Regions from separate parts of the Homo sapiens genome. Here region 2 is linked to region 1. Evidence: fine-mapped expression QTL. A gene starts in region 1. The other region holds a variant in brackets. All regions are shown on one strand. Distances are from middle to middle. Region 1 holds the start of TTC39A (tetratricopeptide repeat domain 39A). Region 2 overlaps TTC39A (tetratricopeptide repeat domain 39A).

Region 1 (10,503 bases):
CACTGGTGATTTGTTCTTGCACGCTGGGGAGGAAATGAGGGAGGAAAGCAGGCCTGGCATCTCCCAGATGTAACGCACCAGGAAACAGGTCTCCTGACAGGAGGAAGGCATCCAGGACTCAGGATGCTGTCCCATCGCCAGGGCCCAGCTGTCACCTCAAGGTGGGGACACACAGGTGATCCAAGTAAGGTCACTTGAGTTGGGGAGGCAGAAATGATGATGGTGACTCACAGACTCCCCTGTGCTGGGGCTGGGCCAGAGCTCCTGGGGGCCAGGAACGGCCTGGGTGGGGCCCTCCTGAGGGGTGGGCCACTCTGATGCGCTGACTCACCAGGTGACTGGCTCTAGCATCACTGTTCGCTGTGATGGTGTGGGGAGAGTTCCAGCTCTAAAGGCGGCTCTTCTGCTTCCCTTACTGAGCTCATTTTTCATCTGTGAAATGGGGAGGAAAGTAGTGTCTAGTGGTCCACCACAACCATCACTAGGTCATTTATATAGCACTCTGCTATTTTCTTTCTTTTTTTTTTTTTGAGACAGGGTCTCACTCTGTTACCCAGGCTGGAGTGCGGTGGCACCATCATGGCCCACTGCAGCCTCAACCTCCTGGGCTCCATTGATCCTCCTGCCTCAGACTCTGGAGTAGCTGGGACTACGTACCCCATGCCGGGCTTTTTTTTGTTTTAGATGGAGTTTCACTCTTGTTTCCCAGGCTGGCGTGCAATAGTGCGATCTTGGTTCACCGCAACCTCCGCCTCCCGGGTTCAAGCGATTCTTCTGCCTTAGCCTCCCATGTAGCTGGAATTATAGGCATGCACCACCACACCTGGCTAATTTTGTATTTTTAGTGGAGACAGGGTTTCTCTGTGTTGGTCAGGCTGGTCTCGAACTCCTGACCTCAGGTGATCCGCCCACCTCAGCCTCCCAAAGTGCTGGGATTACAGGCATGAGCCACCACAACTGGCCTGGCCTTTTTTTTTTTTTTTTTTTTTGTAGAGACAGGGTCTCACCATGTTGCCCAGGCTGGTCTCAAACTCCTGGGCTCATGCAATCCACCTGCTTTGGCCTCCTAAAGTGCTGGGATTACAGGTGTGAGCCACCATGCTCAGCTTATATATGAATTCTTAATACTCGGAGCAACCTTGGAAGTCGGCAATATTATTTCCATTTTACTGATGAGGAAACTGAGGCTCAGAGAGGTGGTAAAGTGAAAATTAAATAAGATAATCCATGTTATACACTGAACATCATGTGTAGCATGTAAAAAGCCTGTGATGTGTGTCAGCCATTGTTATAATAATAACCTCAGAGGGAAATTGTAAAGTGCTAGGCCCCGCATTAGTGTCTGGTGACTAGTCAGGTACCTGATGTCAGGCCCTGAGACACAGAGATGAACTGGACCAGGCCCTAGCCTCCAGAAGCAGACAGTCACATACAAACCTCACTCTCTGCTCCCCACCACCCCAAACACACATACCACACACAGACAGTGACAGCTCAGGGTGATTAAGGTAGGTCAGAGTGGGTTAGGGCAGTGGGTGCAAAGGGAGCCCCTGACCCATCTATGGAGGGAGGGCTTCCTGGAAGAGGTGACATCTGAACTGAAACCTGCAGGGTTAGGAGGAGTTTTGGCATATGGCAAAATGTCAACAAATGTTGGTCAAATACAGTAAAGGTTTACTCTGGAGCTAATACAGCTTATAGCTTCAGGATTCTTCACTTACCTGGCCCCTGCCAAGGCTCTGGGAGAACCCTGGCAATTTTATACAGGCTGACTATCCCTAACCCAAAATGCTCTGGACCAGAAGTGTTTCAATTTTTGGATTTTCATGGATTTTGGAATATTTGCATATGCATAATGAATTATCTTGGGGATGGGGTCCAAGCCTAAACATGAAATTCATTTGTGTTTCATATACAACTTATACACATAGCCTAATGGTCATTTTTTTTTTTTTTTTTTTTTTGGTGGGGGCGATGGAGTTTTGCTCTTGTTAACCCAGGCTGGAGTGCAATGATGTGATCTCAGCTCACTGCAACCTTCGCCTTCCGGGTTCAAGCGATTCTCCTGCCTCAGCCTCCCGAGTAGCTGAGATTACAGGCGTGCGCCACCATGCCTATCTAATTTTGTATTTTTAGTAGAGATGGGGTTTCTCCATGTTGGTCAGGCTGGTCTCGAACTCTTGACCTCAGGTGATCTGCCTGTCTCAGCCTCCCAAAGTGCTGGGATTACAGGCATGAGCCACCATGCCCAGCCACCTAAAGGTAATTTTATACACAATATTTTTAATAATTTTGTGCATGAAACAAAGTTTGTGTACACTGAACCATCAGAAAGAAGTGTCACTCTCTCAGCCATCCATGTGGACAATCTGTGATTATTTGGCATCATCATCATTTTTGACTCTGAATTTATGTGCTCCCAATAAGCATTTTTTTACCCTTATTCACACATAAGTACTTAACAATAAAAATATAACATACCATTAATGCAGTGAAAAAATAGTGTTCAGGGTAACTCAGCAGCACGTGAGCATCAGTAGAATGCCTGTGTCCGCTGTAACAACAGCACAGCAAACATGGCAGGCCTGCAGTCTCCAACTACAGTGCTCAAAAAGCTTCAAGTTTCAGGCCGGGCGCGGTGGCTTACGCCTGTAATCCCACTGTGGGAGGCCAAGGTAGGCGGATCACTTGAGGTCCAGAGTTTGAGACCAGCCTGGCCAACATGGCAAAACCCTGTCTCTACTAAAAATACAAAAATCAGCTGGGCATGGTGGCACATGCCTGTAATCTCAGCTACTCGGGAGGCTGTGGGATGAGAATCACTTGAACCCAGGAGACGGAGGTTGTGGTGAGCCAAGATCACGAGATTGTGCCACTGCACTCCAGCCTGGGTAACAGAGTGAGACTTTGTCTCAAAAAAAAGAGAAAATAAAAAAAGCTTCAAATTTTGGAGCATTCTGGATTTCGGATTTTCAAATTAGGAATGCTCAACCTGTATTGGTAAATTTGTATTCTTTTTTTGAACAGCGGCCTCCCCATTGTAAGCTTCTGGATCCACCCCCGGTTACATGAATGACTAACAAGTGACAAGGGAGGAAGGTGTGTTCCACACAGAGGGAACAGCATGTTTAAATGCCTAGAGATTTGAAAGTGCATGACATGTGATAGGGGCCCCAGCCTCATCATCCTCTTTACATGTATTGCTTGTGGTCTCACCAGCCTCACCCTTTCCCACTTCCATGCCTTCATCCATGCTGCTCCCCGATCTGGTACACCCTCTCCATGACTTCAGTTTGTTTAAATAATATAAACTTCAAGGCTCAGTTCTGTCACCACCTCTTCCAGGAAGCTCCCCAGTCTCTCCCCTTGTCTGGATTCTTTATAGTTGCTGGTGGATGTCATCATAGCTTACTTCTAGTAGTTAATTATCTTTTTCGTGCCTGTATATGAGACTCCTAGAGATGGGATGATTCTTGCAAGTGAGCATCTGCCCCTGCTCACAAATGGGCAGGATGGGACTTCACTGCCTTTCCAGGCAGCCTGCTTAGATTTTAAGCAGCTACCACCAAGCCCAAACTGCCTGGCTCCCCTGGGATCTGGTACAAGTCCTGTTCCCACCGTGGTTGCTTCTGCAGGCTGTCCCCTTCTGCTTCCTCTTCTGACGTCCTGGAGGTCATAGTTGCTCCAGGGGAGCTACAGTCCTTCCTTACTTCTGTCCCCTCCTTTGTGAAGGGACAGCTCTAATGGCAGCCACATGCTCTGATGAGTCATGGTTAAGAGCAGCATCTGGGGCCAGGAGATGGTGACTGGTTAACTCTTCATGGGCCAGTGGCTTTCTGTGCCAGAAGATCAGGTCAGGTGGAGACACCGCCTCAGGGCTCGGTGCACAGTGGACATTTGGGGAGCGTTGTGGGTGACCCCCACACAGGCACTGGGAATGCAGGGGAGAGGGGGCCAAGGGGGAAAGGGGCCAGAGTGTTGGCTTTGGATTCAGGAGGGATGGATTCCAGTCCTAGCTTGCCACTTATTAGGTGAGTGACCATGCGTGAATCAAATGAACCCCATGCCTCAGTTTCCCCATCTGTAAAATAGCAATTATGGGGATCATTTGAGAAGGCAGTGTGAACTGCCAGCTAGCAGTGAGTGCTAAACCGTGTTTTCCCCGCCTTCTGGTCTCCTGCAGTCACTCAGTGGGCGAGATGGTGGGATTAAAATCCAGGCCTGACTCTGGGGGCTGTCTTTGTCTGCACGAATGCCCCCATTAATGCGGGAGGATGGTGACGGCTCAGGTGGGGGCCGCTTCGGGGCGGAAGCTGTGGGGAGGAGAAGTGACAGTAAAGTGGACCTCAGGTCCCGGAGAAGAACTTCTAGCGCCAAATAGGTGGGGACGTGTGAGGAGGGAGCGAGCTCCCGGCCCGGGCGGTGTCTGCGCAGAGGGCGCCGGGCTCTCACCTGTCGGAGCGGGGGTGGGGGCCGCCCAGAACCCCCGGCGGTGCGGGAGCGCGGGTCGCCGCGGGCGGCCATGGCCCTACGGTGCGGGTGGGGAGACCGAGGCTCGGCCCGGCCCCGCCGCCTTCCCCGCCCCCGGCGCGCCCCTCCCCGGCCGCCGCGTCCGCGACCGCACAGCGCCCGGCTCGGGGTTGCGGCGGCAGCACCTGGGCCGCGATTGGCGTCCGGCTGGGGCAGCGCCGCCCGCGCCCCTCGGCGATGACCTCGGCTGGCGGCGCCCCAGGAGCCCTGCCCGCGGGGTAAGTGCGCGGCTGGGAGGCCCGGGGGCGCGGGCGGCGCGGGCTGGGGCCCGGGCAGGTGGCGGGCGCCGCGCCAGGCCTCCCCCCGCGCACCGGCCTGGGGCCGCACTGCGGCTTCCAGCCCCCACCCCGCCCGGCCCCTGGCAGCCGCCGCCGCTGCCAGGAGTGGGGGCAGGGGGCTGTGAGGAGGCGGAGGCGCGGGGACCCCGGGTCGGTCACTCACCTTCTGGGTCCCAACTTTCTCACGGAGCTGTAGTCACAGACACGTTCAGAGCAGCCTTCCCCACCTGCCTCGTGGCGTTCACTCCTGTGGGGTGGGCCCTGTTACTCTCATCCCCATTACAGATGAGGAAACTGAGACACAGCACTTAAGTGACTTGTCATCGGTCACCCAGGAGGTAAGAGTTGCGGGTGGGATTTGAACTCAGTTCTGTCTGTTGTCAGATCCCCCCACCCCATCATCTTCAGGGACATTAGGGGAACTTAAACAGCTAAGGTATGGGCCAGCCGGGCCCATTGGGTGCAGCAGGAACCTGGGTAGTAAAAAGTGGGTGTTGTCACCTTCAACGTGGCTCTCCTGCCCAACCCTACCCACATCCCACTGAGAAACCCCTATAGGACCCCTACCTAGATCACCCCCCGTAGCAGTGACAGCCGCTACTGCCGGGAGACCTTCAGCAACTCTCTGCTTTTCCTGGGCCCCAGTGGGCAGGGCAGGGGGCAGCTGCTAGGAGCCCTGACTGCTGGGAGGTTGCTGGGCAGAGAGCCGGCCCAGGTGAGCTGGGAGGAGGGCTCACCCTGCCTGGAGCCTCACCACCAGTGACAATATTTGCTAAGGGCCCGAGGCTTGACACATGAACAGGGAGGTGACGAGGCTGGTGCCAGCTGGCAGCTGGAAGTCTCCACAGGGCTTGCGTGTGTGTGGCTCTATCAGGGCTTGGAAGCTGGGTTGCTGGGGGACACCCTGGCCTGGGAGAGGGTTGCCTGGTGAGTTTCAGCTTCATCATTTTTGTTGTGTGACTTTGGCCAAGTCCTTAACCCTTCCTAGACTTCTGGTCCCTCCTTTGGAAAACACAGAAGTGGGGCTGGCTGTTCCTTTCCTGTTCTGGGCTCAAGTATTTGTAAAGCTGGAGGTTGGGTAGGTTCCTTCTGTGCAGCCCTGACTGAGCACCACCACCCTGCTGGGTCCAGAAAAGTGGTTTCCAGGAGAGAAGGCGGGCATGGAGCAAGGTATCTATCAAAGAAGTCTAGACTCCCTGGCTGAAAACCACATTCATCCCACTTCCTTATATGCTTACATCCCTGCCTAAGTGCCCTCTACAACCCCGGGCACCTCTGGCCCTGCTGCAGGCCTCAGGACAGCAAGCTTGCTCTTCTCACGCTGGTGGGTCTTCCTTATGCAGAACCGTACCTGCCTCTCTGCATGCCTGCCCACTCTTCTTTGAAGCCACCTGTCCATCTGTCCCCAACCCTGGCTAGTGTCATCCTGGTGGGGTCTGAGCAGAGGAGGGCCGCACGCAGCAGGACCATTCTCACCTTCACTACAGAGACACTCACTCAACAGACACTCAGCAAGGCCTGCTCTGGGCCCAGATGGTCATTGGTGAACAAATCAAGCCTTAAATCTCTACCTTTTTAAAAATTATGAAATATTTTAAGCCTTCAGAAAAATATAGCAAATAGTAAAATGAACTCACAAACCCTTGCCACCCAACTTTGTCAGATATTAACATTGTGCCCCATTTATTTTATATTCTTTTTAAGAAATAAACCATAGTAGAGACCCTTGAAAGTCTTGTGGAAACCTCTTCCCTCCTTCCCTCTCCAGAATTACTTGCCATCCTGAATTTAGGTTTTATCATTTCTCTGTTTTTATTCTTTTACTCAGTGTGTGTAAGTCTTAAAAATATGTAGTTTGTTCTTCAAAGTTTTCTGTGAATGGAGTCCTATAGCATGTGTCATGCTGCAGCTCGCGTTTTCACACTCAACTTCAGGTCTCAGATTTAGCCTTGATCCTGTAGCTCTTGTCCCACTTGCCCTGATGTGTGATATACCACCCTATGTAGACACCTCCATTTGTTTATCCTTCTTGATGGATGTCGAAGTGTTCCCAGTGTCTTGCTATTCAGACAGTGAATATTCTTGTATGATGGTGTTTGCACATGTGTTTCACGAGGGTGCCCCCTTAGTAGTGGAATTGCTGGGTTGTTGGATATGTGCACTCGATCTTAAATAAAATAAAATAAAATAAAATAGAGACAGGATCTCACTTTGTTGCCCAGACTGGTCTCAAACTACTGGGTTCAAGCGATCCTCCTTCCTTGGCCTCCTGAAGTGCTGGGATTACAGGAGTAAGCCACTGCGCCTGGCCCACTCAATCTTTTAAAGTTATTTAGTTTCATTATAAAGTCAGTGCTACTTGATCAAGAAATGATGGTAAAGCCGCACGCAGTTGCTCACGCCTATAATCCCAGCACTTTGGGAGGCCCAGGCAGGTGGATGACTTGAGATCAGGAGTTTGAGATCAGCCTGGCCAACATGGTGAAACCCTGTCTCTACTAAAAATACAAAAATTAGCCTGGCATGGTGGTGCACACCTGTAATCCCAGCTACTCGGGAGGCTGAGGCAGGAGAATCTCTTGAACCCGGGAGGCGGAGGTTGCAGTGAACCCAGGTAGTGCCATTGCACTCCAGCCTGGGCGACAGAGAGAGCCTCTCTCAAAAAAAAAAAAAAAAATGGCAATACATAATTTTAGAAAAAAATAATAATTACTCACATTTTCTGAGTACTCTTGTGCTTTCCATAGTCTTAGTCATTCTTCACAAAAACCGTGGGAGGTAAGTACTGTCATTCCCATCTCCTTGATGAGGAAACGGAGGCTCATAGAGGGTATGGAACATTCCCAAGGTTATCCAGCAAGTAATAGCTGCAGCTTGAGTCTAGGGTTGTCTGCTTTCAGAACTCTTGCAGGCCACACTGCATTAGGTCATGCTACATCACTCCGTGACACATTTATGTGCAGCTAAGGGGGACTCTTTGGAAGGAGAGTCACAATCATTTTTGCAATTTAGAAAGATCACTTCTAAAGCAACAGATCCCCATGGGCAGATTATTTTACTCGTTGAGCCAAAGTTCCCCTCAGTGGTGGAGCAGGGATTAAAATCCAGCTCTGACTGCAGTTGGCTTCCTGAGCGACCGCTCCGCCGCCTCACCCACCCCACACCCACCTCATCCTGACTGGGATGGAGGTAGGAGGATTTTCTGTTCTCAGTGGGAACTGAGGGTCTCCCAGCTCTACCCAGATCTGCCCATGAGGCACAGAAGCAGCAGTCCAAGCCAACTCTAGTAGAGAAGTGGGAGGGAAGGGGAGAGTGGGGGCGGCTCCAGGCTACCTGACACCCCCTCCCACCCTCTAGCTCCCTTCTCGTTTGGGCCTCAAGTGTGGGTGGGATCTGAATGAGAGAGCCGCCACCACTGTGCCAGAGCTCCTGGCATTGGTCACCAGCTCTGCTCCATCCAGCCCAGCACCTCTTCTCCGCGTCCCTCTCCTCTGTTCCCCAACACACAGTGGAGAGGCCACCATCACCGCAGGAATAGATGTCACCTGGGCCAGGCAAGGTGTCCTTGGAAAAGAAAGGTCTTGGAGACGCAGGGGCAGCCTGTGGAGAAATGGGGGCCTCAGTCTCAGCCAGGTGAGGGGAAAGGTTTGGCGCTGTTGCTTCCACAGAATGCATTTTTGTCTTCTCCCAGGCTCCTGAGAGGAGCCTGACTGCGTTCCTGTCTTCACTGCCTGTCCCTGCCATATCTATCAAAGACAGATAAGGGTGCCTGCTGGCAGGACTGAGTGAAATAATGCAGTCATCAATTTAAATAAGTTGAAGTGGTAATCTCTTTGTGGCGATGGGTGGTTGGTTGTTAATGCTATTATTAAGTCAAATGGGGCGGATGTCTCCAGCCTTCCTGAGCTCTCTAGCCACCGCAGCCTCACCCCTCCATTTAGCTGGCCTTGCAGAGCCTCTGTCTTCCAAGCCCTTCCAGAACGCTTGTACCTCCTAACTGTGGTGTCATGCCTCCAGCCCTGTGTGTGTGCTGTTTCCCCTTCTTAGACTTCTTTCTCCATCTTGTTCTCAGTTTGATGGCATTTTCCTTGATGCCATCCTCCTTCCATGATGCCATCCTCCTTCCGCCCAGCCTCCTCAGTGCCCCAGGCTGAGTTAGAGGTGTCTTCTGGGCCCCTTTGGCCCCCAGTGATTCCCATGATCACAGCCCTGAGCACTGTAGCGGTCACTGCCCTGTCTGCATCTGTCACCTGTAGGCTGTGAGCTCCTGAAGAGGCAGGCCTAGGTCTGTGTCCACTCTGTGTCCCCAGAGCCCAGTCCCACGCATAGCCTAGAGCACGAGATTCGCGGGTGCTTGTGGGAGGGAAGGAGGGAGGAAATCAGCCCAGGGCTCAGCTCGCCCCCAGTCTGGGGGAGGTTACCGCAGACAGCCTCATCCCAGTTAAGCAGAAGAGGTGCCGGGGCTGCCGAGGGAAGGACTGTGCCTGTCTGCACTGACTGTCCATCCGGCCTGGATCTTTCTCTCCAGGTAGACCAAGTAGACAGGACCTTTTCCTCGGTGGGGGATGGAGGTGGTGAGGGGTGTGTGCAGAAATGGGAGGCAGGCTCTTGGCTCAGAAATTGTTTAGAGGTTGGCATAAACCACAACAATGGGCTTGACTTTCTGGGGCTGAGCTGATGGGTACTGGCTCAGGCAGAAACTTGGGTTAGAATGCATGCTTGGATGTGTGACCTTAGCTTGGATGTGTGACCTTAGCCAAGTTACCCGTCCTCTGTGCCTCAGTTTCCCCATCTGCAATAGGTGTGGGGGGGTAATAATCCCATTTCACAGGGCATTTTGAGAGCAGTCAGAGAGAATGCCAGTTAAACACCCAGGCAGTAGATGCTCACTGCTGCCTCATTGATTCATCCAACAGAGATGAATGGCTTGAACACCAGTCACTAGGCTATGCCCTGGGCAGAGACAGACACCATCCCAGCCTCTGAAGAGAGGGGCAGGGACCACATCAGGTGGGGCCTTTTAGGCCATGGAAAGGAACTTGGCCTTTACCCTAAGAGCAATGGGAAGCCAGGGAAAGATTTTAAGTCCAGAAGTGACATTTGTGGTTTTTTTTTTTTTTTTGAGATGGAATTTTGCTCTTGTTGCCCAAGCTGGAATGTAATGGTGCGATCTCTGCTCACCACAACCTCTGCCTCCCATGTTCAAGCGATTCTCTTGCCTCATCCTCCGTAGTAGTTGGGATTACAGGCATATGCCACCACGCCCAGTTAATATTGTATTTTTAGTAGAGGCGGGGTTTCTCCATGTTGGTCAGGCTGGTCTCGAACTCCTGACCTCAGGTGATCCGCCCGCCTCAGCCTCCAAAAATGCTGGGATTACAGGCATGAGCCACCATGCCCAGACAGATGTGGGTTTTAAAGATGTATCTTTGGCAATTATGGGAGAGACAGGTTAGGGGAAATAATGCTTCCAACATTCTCTCTCAAAGAAACTACCTAGAGGTGGGGATGAGTTACAACAAACATCCTTTAAAGTACATTCCTGGCCAGGTGCAGTGGCTCACGCCTGTGATCCCAGCACTTTGGGAGGCTGAGGCGGGTGGATCACCTGAGGTCAAACACCTGAGGAGTTTGATACCAGCCTAGCCAACATGGTGAAACCTCATCTCTACTGAAAATACAAAAAAATTAGTCG
Region 2 (10,503 bases), 42 kb after region 1:
TCTAAAGTTTTAAAATATTTTATGGTTTAAAATATACCATAGGCCAGGCATGGTGGCTCACGCCTGTAATCCCAGCACTTTGGGAGGCTAAGGCAGGCAGATCACCTGAGGTCAGGAGTTAGAGACTGGCCTGATCAACATGGAGAAACCCCACCTCTACTAAAAATACAAAATTAGCCGGGCGTGGTGGCGCATGCCTGTAATCCCAGTTACTCGGGAGGCTGAGGCAGGAGAATCTCTTGAATCTGAAAGGTGGAGGTTGCAGTGAGCTGAGATCGTGCCATTGCACTCCAGCCTGGGCAACAAGAGTGAAACTCCATCTCAAAAAAAAAAAAAAAAAATACAGTAAAGCTATTACTATCAAGTGGAGCAGGAGGATATTGTAGGAAGGGCAAGGGCAGCAACTATACCAAAAACTTAGGGGAGAATTTCCCAAACTGTAATCTGCAAAATACTGTTTATGCATTAAATGATTTATGTGATTAAATACATTTGGGAAAGACTGGCCTAAACACAGTTTATATACTATAGGCTTTCTTGGAGTCTTTATATATTAATCTAAGAAGAAGTTTAAAGATATGTTTTTTCTCTAACTTATTTGGCCACAGAATCATTTCTAATTTTTATTTATTTCGGGGGAAGGGGAGAATCCTTTTTTAAAAAATGAAACATTTGCTGGCTGGGTGTGGTGGTTCATGCCTGTAATCCCAGAACTTTGGGAGGCCAGGGTAGGTGGATCGTTTGAGACCAGGAGTTCAAGACCAGCCTGGCCAACATGGTGAAACCCCATCTTTACAAAAAATTCAAAATTTAGTGGGGCATGGTGTCCTGCATCTGTAGTCCCAGTTTCTTGGGAGGCTGAGGTGGGAGGATCGCTTGAGCCCAGGAGGTCAAGGCTACAGTGAGCTGTGATAGTGCCACTGCACTCCAGCCTGGGTGACAGAGTGAGACCCTGTCTCTAAAATAAAATAAAATAGAATGAAACATTTGCTAACTTGGGACCACAGAACAGTTGAGAAATACTGGTCTAAACTGAAATTCCCTTCCTAGAACATAACAAGAACCACAACAATAATGTCTTTCTAGAACTTTATGGCTACAAAGTGTTTTCACATCCATTATCTTCTTTGATAGTTTAGGAAATGCTCATTTAAGCAAACACAGTTACTATGAATGAAAGTTTAGTACTATTATTTTATTTTATTTATTTTTAAATATTTATTTTAGAGGTGGGGTCTCACTCTGTCATGCAGGCTGGAGTGTAGTGGTGATATCAGCTCACCACAGCCTCAAACTCCTGGGCTCAAAGGATCCTCTCACTTCAGCCTCCTGACTACAGGTGTGCACCGCCATGCTCAGCTACTATTTTTATTTTTTTGTAGAGATGATATCTCACTGTGTTGCCCAAGCTGGTGTTGAACTCCAGGGCTCAAGAGATCCTCTAACCTCAGCCTCCCAAAGTGCTGGAATTACAGGCGTAAGCCACTGCATTCAGCCTAATTTAGTATTCTGAGCTTCCTGGCAGTCGAGGCAAAAACAAACAAACAAAAGGAACCAATAGCCTGACAAAGACATGGTGAAAAGAATTTTTTTTTTTTTTTTGAGATAGAATCTCACTCTGTCACCCAGGCTGGAATGCAGTGGGGTGATCATAGCTCACTGCAGCCTAGATTTCTTGGGCTCCAGCGATCCTCCCACCTAAGCCTCCCAAGTAGCTGGGACCCCAGGCTTGCACCACCATGCCTGGCTAATTTTTTTTTTTTTTTTTTTTTTTTTTTTGGTGGAGATGGGGTTTCGCCATGTTGCCCAGGCTGGTCTTGAACTCCTGAGCTCAAGTGATTATGATCCACCTGCCTAAGCCTTCCAAAGTGCTGGGATTACAGGTGTGAGCCACCATACCTGGCCCCAAGACTTTTTTTTTGAGACGGAGTCTCTGTCACCCAGGCTGGAGTGCAGTGGTGCCATCTCGGCTCACTGCAACTTCCGCTTCCTGGATTCAAGTGATTCTCCTGTCTCAGCCTCCCGAGTAGCTGGAATTATAGGTGTGTGCCACCACACCCGGCTAATTTTTGTATTTTTAGTAGAGATGGGGTTTCACCATGTTGGCCAGGCTAGTCTCGAACTCCTGACCTCAGGTGATCCACTCATCTCGGCCTCCCAAAGTGCTGGGATTACAGGCGTGAGCCGCTGTGCCTGGCCCCCCCCAAATTTTTTTAACTAAAAAAAAAGAATCTAAGAAAAAGAATAAAAGGAATCAGATGTGTTTTAAGAGTCTCAATGATGGTAACTTCATTCTAAAGGAAATGGAATATGAATGTCATTATTTAGCCCATTGCTTTGGGAGACTAGGAGTAGAAGAGAAGGTGACATAGCCTTAAATTCTGTTGTCCTGAAATGTGTGTATGGAGCATGGCCTGGTCCTCAAAGGACAGAAAGTGTTTGGCCCCAGAGAGGTTGGGAGAAAGGACATAATAGCACTCAGGGAGGGCATGAGCAGGAAAATAGCTGGAAAACTTGGGCAGCTATGAGCAGCACATTACGGACATTGGTCCATCTTACATCTTCACTGGGGTAAGGTGAGATCTCAGGAGGAAATCAATGATAAGGCTCCCATAACCCCCTCAGACCCACAGCTTCACAGGCTGACTGAGACCTGTCATGGATGATTAGAGCTAGAAGGTCCTTTAGTGAACCTCTGATCTGAACTGCCCATTTTGTAGATGGGAAAACTGAGGCCCCATTAGGGAAGAAACCTAGGACTGACTTGCCCCCCTGCCTTCAGGAAATGATGTACATCTGGAACGGCTACGCCGTGATTGGGAAGCAGCCGAAACTCACGGATGGGATACTTGAGATTATCACTAAGGCTGAAGAGATGCTGGAGAAAGGCCCAGGTGACTTCCCTCAGGCCCTTGGGCCTGCCATGCTAGGTCAGGTCTTTACAGCTGAAGCTTCCCTCTGCCAAAAATGTCCTTCCTCCTTTCCCTACCCTGGCAACTCTCCTTTATCTCTCTAGACTGAGCTCCTCCAAGCAGCTGTTCCTTGTCCACCTGGTAGGGTCAAAGCCTCTGGGCTCCCGCAGCCTTGGGGCTTCCTTCAGTGCTGACCTCACTGTATTGTCATTGTCTCAGTATTTGCCTTTCCTTCTTAGATGTGACCCCTGCTGAGGACAGGGACTGTGTCTGATTTACCTGTGTCCCTTTGACCTAGCACAAAGTAGGGGGCTCCATAAGTAACTGCTGCAGAAATGAACAAGTCTGTCTTTTTCCCTCACATCCCTATTTTCAGAGAACGAGTACTCAGTGGATGACGAGTGCTTGGTGAAATTGTTGAAAGGCCTGTGTCTGAAATACCTGGGCCGTGTCCAGGAGGCCGAGGAGAATTTTAGGAGCATCTCTGCCAAGTAAGTGCCTCTGCAGCTGCTCCTTCTGGGTCTGAGTCTCCTGGGTAGAATATTCAGGGCTTCTCCATCCTCATGCCCACTGCAGTGGCTGACCCTAGCCAACCCCCACTCACCACACAGGTACTAAACCAGTGTCCACTCTGTGCCAGGACTTGTGCCGGGAGCTGTACAGATAATTCAGACCTAGCCTCCCAGTGCCACCAAATTGCCTGACTACAGGAGTCCATCCACGTTGTTTTGAGTGAACAGTGTCCCCTGGAGTTTGTAATTCGGTGACTCTATCCTTGCCCTCAGGGAGGGCAATGTGACAGATGGCAAGCTGTAGGCAACCCAACCAAGGCTCGTCAGGGCCATGCTAAAGGAAAGCGGAGAGGACAGCAGGTGCCCCAAGAAGGGACCTAAACTTAATGGGAGATACCAGGAAAGGCTTTCCAAGGCTGATGTTGAAAGTGGGAAGTTCATCAGGCAGAGAAAGCAAGGGAGGACAGGTTTGAAGTGGAGTAAGTACAGCATGCACCAGTGCATGGACACAGGAAAGACATCTGAGGCTGGGGTGACGGTGATGGGGTCTTTACCTGCCTGGGTGAAGTCATAGAGAGAAAAGATTGAAGATGAAAAAGGAGGGATAGAATGAGAAGGGCCTGGATGTTTTGTTCACAAGGCTAAATTGTATCCCAAAGAAGACAGCCAGAAAGGGTACCGGGCAAGGAGGACTTGGGGTTTAAAAGGATATCTCCAGGACAGCATGGAGGTCGGGTCAGAGAGGGTAGATCAGAGACAGGAGACTTTACAGTTTAATAAACCATTCAACCTGGAGAAAGGGAGGTCGGGACTTAGGTGGCGGTGGACTAAGGACATGACAGGAGCCATAGGTTGTCAGGGAGCTGGAGCCCAAGGTACAGGATGGGAAGGCTTTGCTATGGATCCCAGCCTTTCTAGGGCTGGGTAGTGGGAACCTCCCAAAATTGGAGTTCGGGTTAGGAAATCCTCACATGCAGTTTGGGAGAGGCTCAGGAGGAGGAACCTGAGCCATGTCCTCTGTTCTGCAGTGAAAAGAAGATTAAATATGACCACTACTTGATCCCAAACGCCCTGCTGGAGCTGGCCCTGCTGCTTATGGAGCAAGACAGAAACGAAGAGGCCATCAAACTTTTGGAATCTGCCAAGTAAGGCTTGGGTAACCTCAGTCTGTCCTTTGCTCCCTCTGAACTCAGCTCAGGAGCTGGCTGGGGACAGAGTTGCCCAGAGAGCAGTGAGTGGAGTTGCTAGCAAGGCCAGTCTGGCAGTCTAGAGGGTGGACCTGTGTCCCTCGGAATCCAGCTCTCGCCTGTCATAGGAAGACTTCTTTCTTAATGTATAAATGCGCAGTTAGACTCCCAGAGGCAGGAAGTAAGTTCCCAAGGTCACATCAGAAGCCAACTGCATGGCTGTGTGAGGACCCATGCCTCCTGCCTTCCAGGGTAGGGGTCTATTCCCTAAAACCACCCCTTCAAGCTTAGGAACCCAGGAGGACCAGGAGTGGTTCCAGTGGCCATGATACCAGGGATGAGGGGCCACAAACCCTTCTGGTTAACTCTCCCATTGGGTAGGGCTCAACTCTCTCTGGACACATTAATTTCTCTACAATCCTTCCTTGGCTCGCGGGGCTCATACAGCTCAAACAGGAGGAAAAGCATCTCTGGGAGCAGGCAGCCTCATGTGTCTGATTCGCTGCTCAATTCCAGGCAAAACTACAAGAATTACTCCATGGAGTCAAGGACACACTTTCGAAT[C/T]CAGGCAGCCACACTCCAAGCCAAGTCTTCCCTAGAGAACAGCAGCAGATCCATGGTCTCATCAGTGTCCTTGTAGCTTTGTGCAGCAGTTCCGGGCTGGAAGACAGAGACAGCTGGACAGAGCTCCTGAAAACATTTCAAAATACCCCCTCCCCCTGCCCTGCCCTGCCTTTGGGGTCCACCGGCACTCCAGTTGGATGGCACAACATAGTGTATCCGTGCAGAAGCCGAGCTGGCATTTTCACCAGTGTAGCCAAGGGCCTTTGCCAAGGGCAGAGCAGGTGGAGCCCTCTGCCTGCCCTATCACACATACGGGTACTTGCTTTTCACTGTGATGTTTAAGAGAATGTATGAACAGTTTACATTTTCCTTAGAAATACATTGATGGGATCACAGTTGGCTTTAAAAACCAACAACAATCAACCACCTGTAAGTCTTTGTCTTCACCTATTATCATCTGGAGGTAAATCTCTTTATATGATGATGCCAAAGGGCAAATTGCTTTTCAAATTCAGCAAGTTCTCAGCTTGTGTGACGGAAGGTCCTTCAGAGGACCTGAGGAATGCCTGGGAGAGGCTAAGCCTCAGGCTTCAATGCTTCTGGGGTTGGGCATGAGGATGTACACAGACACCCACTACCTTACTACTCACACTTCATTTCACTCCTTTTGTAAATTTCCAATTTAAAAATCAAGCACGTCTTTTTAGTGAGATAAAATCTGAGCTCTTCTGTAGAAAAATCAATCTCTACCAGTAGAAAATGCCAGGGCTTGATGGAAGAGCTGTGTAGCCCTTTCTATGCCAAAGCCAGGAAATTTGGGGGGCAGGAGGAGGTTCTCAGAATCCAGTCTGTATCTTTGCTGTATGCCAAACTGAAACCACTGGGAATAATTTATGAAACATAAAAATCTTCTGTACTTCACTCCAAGGTACATTTGCTTACTGACAGCATTTTTGTTAAAACTGTTATTCTTGACCTGTTGTGTATGCGTTAGATTCTTCAGTTAAGAGAAAAGAGATATTTAAGTGATAAAATTTATGCCCTTAAGGGATCGTGCATCATGTATTTCAATAAAATATGTGTTGCATGAATCCTTAGGCCAGGCAGAAAGTCTTGATCAGAAGCCACACGGCCTATGTATGTTTTATTTAGACCACACAATGTTTTAAACTTTTTGAATAAGTTACCAGCATTCACAAATGGGGAGATTTTACAGATGAATCTGGTTCCTGGCCTGTAATTTAAAAACAAACAAACAAAAATGGCAACATTGAGCCTCATTCCCATGAGGCAACAATCAGCTAGAGCTAAGTCCAGGCTACTTTAAACACTTCTGTTACCTTTCTGGCCCCTAAAAGCATCTGAATTTGCAACCTCTAGGATTGTTAAAGTGAGAACTCAGGTTCAATGACCAACACCAGGTTTTACTCTTCACTTTCTGATGTCAGCACACTTCAACCTAACCATTTCCCCGTAGGGAAAATCATGCACACAGTAAAAATATTCATCTGTGAAAACGTTACTCCCCAAATGCATGAATGCAGTTTCTACGAGAGAAGAACCAGTTAAACTTTCCAATCTTCTAGGATTGCTGTATTTAACAAACACGAGTATCTGCCAAGGGTCTGGGTTAATATATAAAGATCCAGTCGGTCGGGCACGATGGCTCACGCCTGTAATCCCAGCACTTTGGGAGGTTGAGGTGGGTGGATCATGAGGTCAGGAGATCGAGACCATCCTGACCAATATGGTGAAACCTCGTCTCTACTAAAAATTAAAAAATTAGCTGGGCGTGGTGGCGCATGCCTGTAGTCCCAGCTACTTGGGCAGGAGAATCGCTTGAACCCAGTAGGCAGAGGTTGCAGTGAGCTGAGATCGTGTCATTGTACTCCAGCCTGGCGACAGAGGGAGACTCCATCTCAAAAAAAAAAAAAAAAGATCCAGTTGACCAGCCTCCTATGGGTGACATCGAATGAAGTAATGGGTTTTAGGCAAAATATATTATTAGGAAAAAAAGCAAAAAAACCCTCACCCAAGATTATCTTTTCCAATGAGTATTGTCAGAGTAGAAATGCTATGAAAAAAAAATCTCTCATATTATTAGAATGAAACAAAAGAATGTCCTCCATAGAGAGTAATCCCTTTGCAAGCTATCTCTTCTCCAAAGCCTGGATGCTGGGAGACCAACCTGTTTCTAGGCTCCTGGACAGGACAGGGTGAGCGGGTAGAGACAGGCTGCAGGAGGACAGGCCTCCATGGCTTCCCCACATGTTGGAATGTTGCCTGCTGCTGTATCAAAGCAGCACTACTCACAGGACACCAAACACATACTTTGGAAAATTGCAGTTTACAAAAAAACTCATTTCGGGTGCTTTTTTTTTTTTTTTTTTTTTTGAGACAGTCTCGCTATGTCACCAGGCTGGAGTGCAGTGGCGCGATCTCAGCTCACTGCAACCTCTGCCTCCCGGGTTCAAGCAATTCTCCTGCCTCAGCCTCCTGAGTAGCTGGGATTACAGGCATGCGCCACCATGCCCAGCTAATTTTTGTATTTTTAGTAGAGATGGGGTTTCACCATGTTGGCCAGGATGGTCTCGATCTCCTGACCTCGTGATCCACCTGCCTTGGCCTTCCAAAGTGCTGGGATTACAGGCATGAGCCACCACGCCCGGCCACGGGTGCTTTCATTTTAAAATTTGGTCAAGATGATTTCCTCGTCAACATTTGCTGTTTATTTCCTCCTGGGCTTTGTTAATTAATCCTATGTCACTTTTACCTCTGCTGCCCTGATAAGATAAATCAGTGGGTTTTGCCTCCTGTACCCCACCTGCAAATTCTGAGATAATCTATCAAATATATACATATACATACATATGTGAAGGACAATGAAAACACTGGGTTTCTAACATCACCACATCCTTATGCAAGGGCGTTTTCAAGAAAGTGAAAATTCTGTCATAGGCTCTCAATGTCTTATTTGAGTCATCTGTGGTCACTGCTTCTCTAATAGTGCAGACCTTCCCAGCACATCTGCCATGGAGAGGCCACAGATCAGGTGGAAGGTTTGAGCCTGGAAATAAGGAGACCTGAATTCCAGTCCTGACTTTGCTACTGATTTTCAAAGTAACCTTGGGAAAGTCACAGATCCTCTAAAAATGAGCAATTTGGACAAGATTAAGGCTCTTTCCTGCCTTCTACAGTTTCTTTATGGGTTTTCATCTGCAAAATGAGGCAACAGATACACTTCCCTACCTTTCTGCCAAAGCCTTGTGTCCCTAAGCAATTCAACCAGAAATAATAGACTTCTTAGGGGCTCTACAGTAGCCAGAACACCCAGAGAGCAAGTAATCCTCATTTAGAGAAAGTCTAAATCCTGTGCCCCAAGATGAATTCAGTTGTTAGGGAAGTAGCAATGATGTAACATGATCTGAACAGGTCCTTGGCAACAGAAAGTCTACCTCAGCCTCTCACTGATCACAGGCCCTCAGAATGGCAGAGTGGCTTCTAGCAGTGTGCTGGGCCCTCAGCTCTCCCATGGGTTGGCAGGTTGCCCTATTCCTTATCTCTTGAGCCAGAATGGGAGTGTTTCCAAGACAGTTATCATTCACAGCAGAAAGCCACAACCTGACATCAAAGCCAGGATCCTAAAAGGCCAACACCAACTCAAGATTTGGCTGAGGTCCAGGTGGGAGATTCCCAAGTGAAGAATGGCACCAAGAGGTTTTAAGAAAGCCCCAGTGTGCTGAGTACTAGAACCATTCAAGGAATCAAATCCAGACCCTTTCCTCTGGAGTTACTCCCAAGATCATTTCTTCTAAGATGATGGGAGTCAACAGTCTTTTCCTTGTTTACTTCAAATTTAAAGCCTAACAGTGCCTTCTCAACATCCTCAGCATCATCACACTAATTCAGTAATAAATGAGAGGTGTCTGGATTCTGCAATCCAAGCAGCAAATGGGAACTTCTCACGCCCACCCTCAGATGCAGCCTTCCAAGGTCGGAAAGTGCCTTCTGCTCGGGTTAGCACGGCTCCTTTGAATTCCAGTGCAAAGTTCATTACTGATTAATAGGCTAGGTCCACAAACAAGAAACCTCATTTGGGGACTCGAAAACTCCATCTCTAAATGAGTAATCTATGACTGCTTCCACTGTATAAAGTCAACTGTTAAGTGACAAAATAAGAATAGAGCCCTTTGGGAAGACATAGAATGAACTATTGAAGGTCTCTATGGACTGTTAAAAGTTCATGTTTGGCTGGGCGTGGTGGTTCACGCCTGTAATCCCAGCACTTTGGGACGCCGAGGCAGGTGGATCACAAGGTCAGGAGATTGAGACCATCCTGGCCAACATGGTGAAACTCGGTCTCTACTACAAATACAAAAATTAAGTGGGCGTGGTGGCAGGCACCTGTAGTCCCTGCTACTCAGGAGGCTGAGGCAGAATTGCTTGAACCCGGTTGGTGGAGCTTGCAGTGAGCCGAGATCGCGCCTCTGCACTCCAGCCTGGGTGACAGAGCGAGACTCTGTCTAAAAAAGAAAAAAAAGTGGATGTTTAATCAGAGACATCACAGCTAATGTCTCACAAATGACTAGATCAGGTTTGTTTTTCTTCCTCCACATTAAACACTCCAGAACATCAGACACCAATATGCTCTGGGGAAAAGAATAAAAGCTAGTATTTATTAAATACTCATTATGTGCCAGTTGCTATTCTAAGTACTTTACATTTATTTAATCCTCATAATATTTACATAATCCTATGAAGTGGGGCCATTGTCATTTTGCAGATGGCAAAACTGAGGCACAGGTAAATAAGTTGCCTAAGATCACACAACGATTATGCAGCAGTAAGATTTGAAGACAGGCTGCTGAACTCTAAAGCCTGTACTTTGCTACACTGTTGGTCAAGCTGTAAAATCCTGTGTAAAGTTAGACCCAGCTTATACTGACTCTTGGGCCACTGTGAAAATGGAAGAAGTACTGACTAATAGCTCAACCGCTGGAGATGCTTGGCTGCAAACACATGGAGCATGTCTTTGTGGCATGGCTCCCTTTGGCACTTGGCATCATGAAGTAGGGAGAGGGCCTAACTTGCAAAAAGCCAAAAGAAAAGCAATCCTTAAACAACAGTATTTGCTCAGAAAATCATCGAGGGATGATGGAGGAAAAGGCATGATCCAATCCCCACTCAGGTAGAGTTCCAGTCAACTACTCCAGAGATGGGAAGTGAAGCCTGCACTGAGGCTTGATGCATAGCAAGTCATGTGCTAGAAGGGGCTTGGTATAAGACAATAAGAAAGAGGATCACTGGCAAACTGGGAAGCATATGATG

Evidence for each region.
Region 2: its variant is fine-mapped to the expression of TTC39A in lung (TOPMed, PIP 0.99). The same link has a PIP of 0.9 or more in nasal epithelium.

The regions. Positions count from the first base shown.
Region 1 is chr1:51,324,682-51,335,184 of GRCh38, reverse strand. It overlaps TTC39A (tetratricopeptide repeat domain 39A), which reads left to right and starts at 4,623. Exons shown (of 18, transcript NM_001297663.2): 1 at 4,623-4,748. The coding sequence starts at 4,708. TTC39A-AS1 (TTC39A antisense RNA 1) reads right to left here and starts at 5,531. Exons shown (of 3, transcript NR_123731.1): 1 at 5,376-5,531; 2 at 4,972-5,055; 3 at 3,904-4,313. RefSeq lists an enhancer at 3,714-3,763 and a silencer at 4,581-4,650.
Region 2 is chr1:51,282,905-51,293,407 of GRCh38, reverse strand. TTC39A (tetratricopeptide repeat domain 39A) reads left to right here. Exons shown (of 18, transcript NM_001297663.2): 15 at 2,783-2,894; 16 at 3,289-3,403; 17 at 4,453-4,569; 18 at 5,128-6,150. The coding sequence ends at 5,251. Among named protein-coding and RNA genes, the nearest start is that of TTC39A-AS1, 41 kb to the left of the region's middle. The variant C/T (reference allele first, on the strand shown) is at 5,176.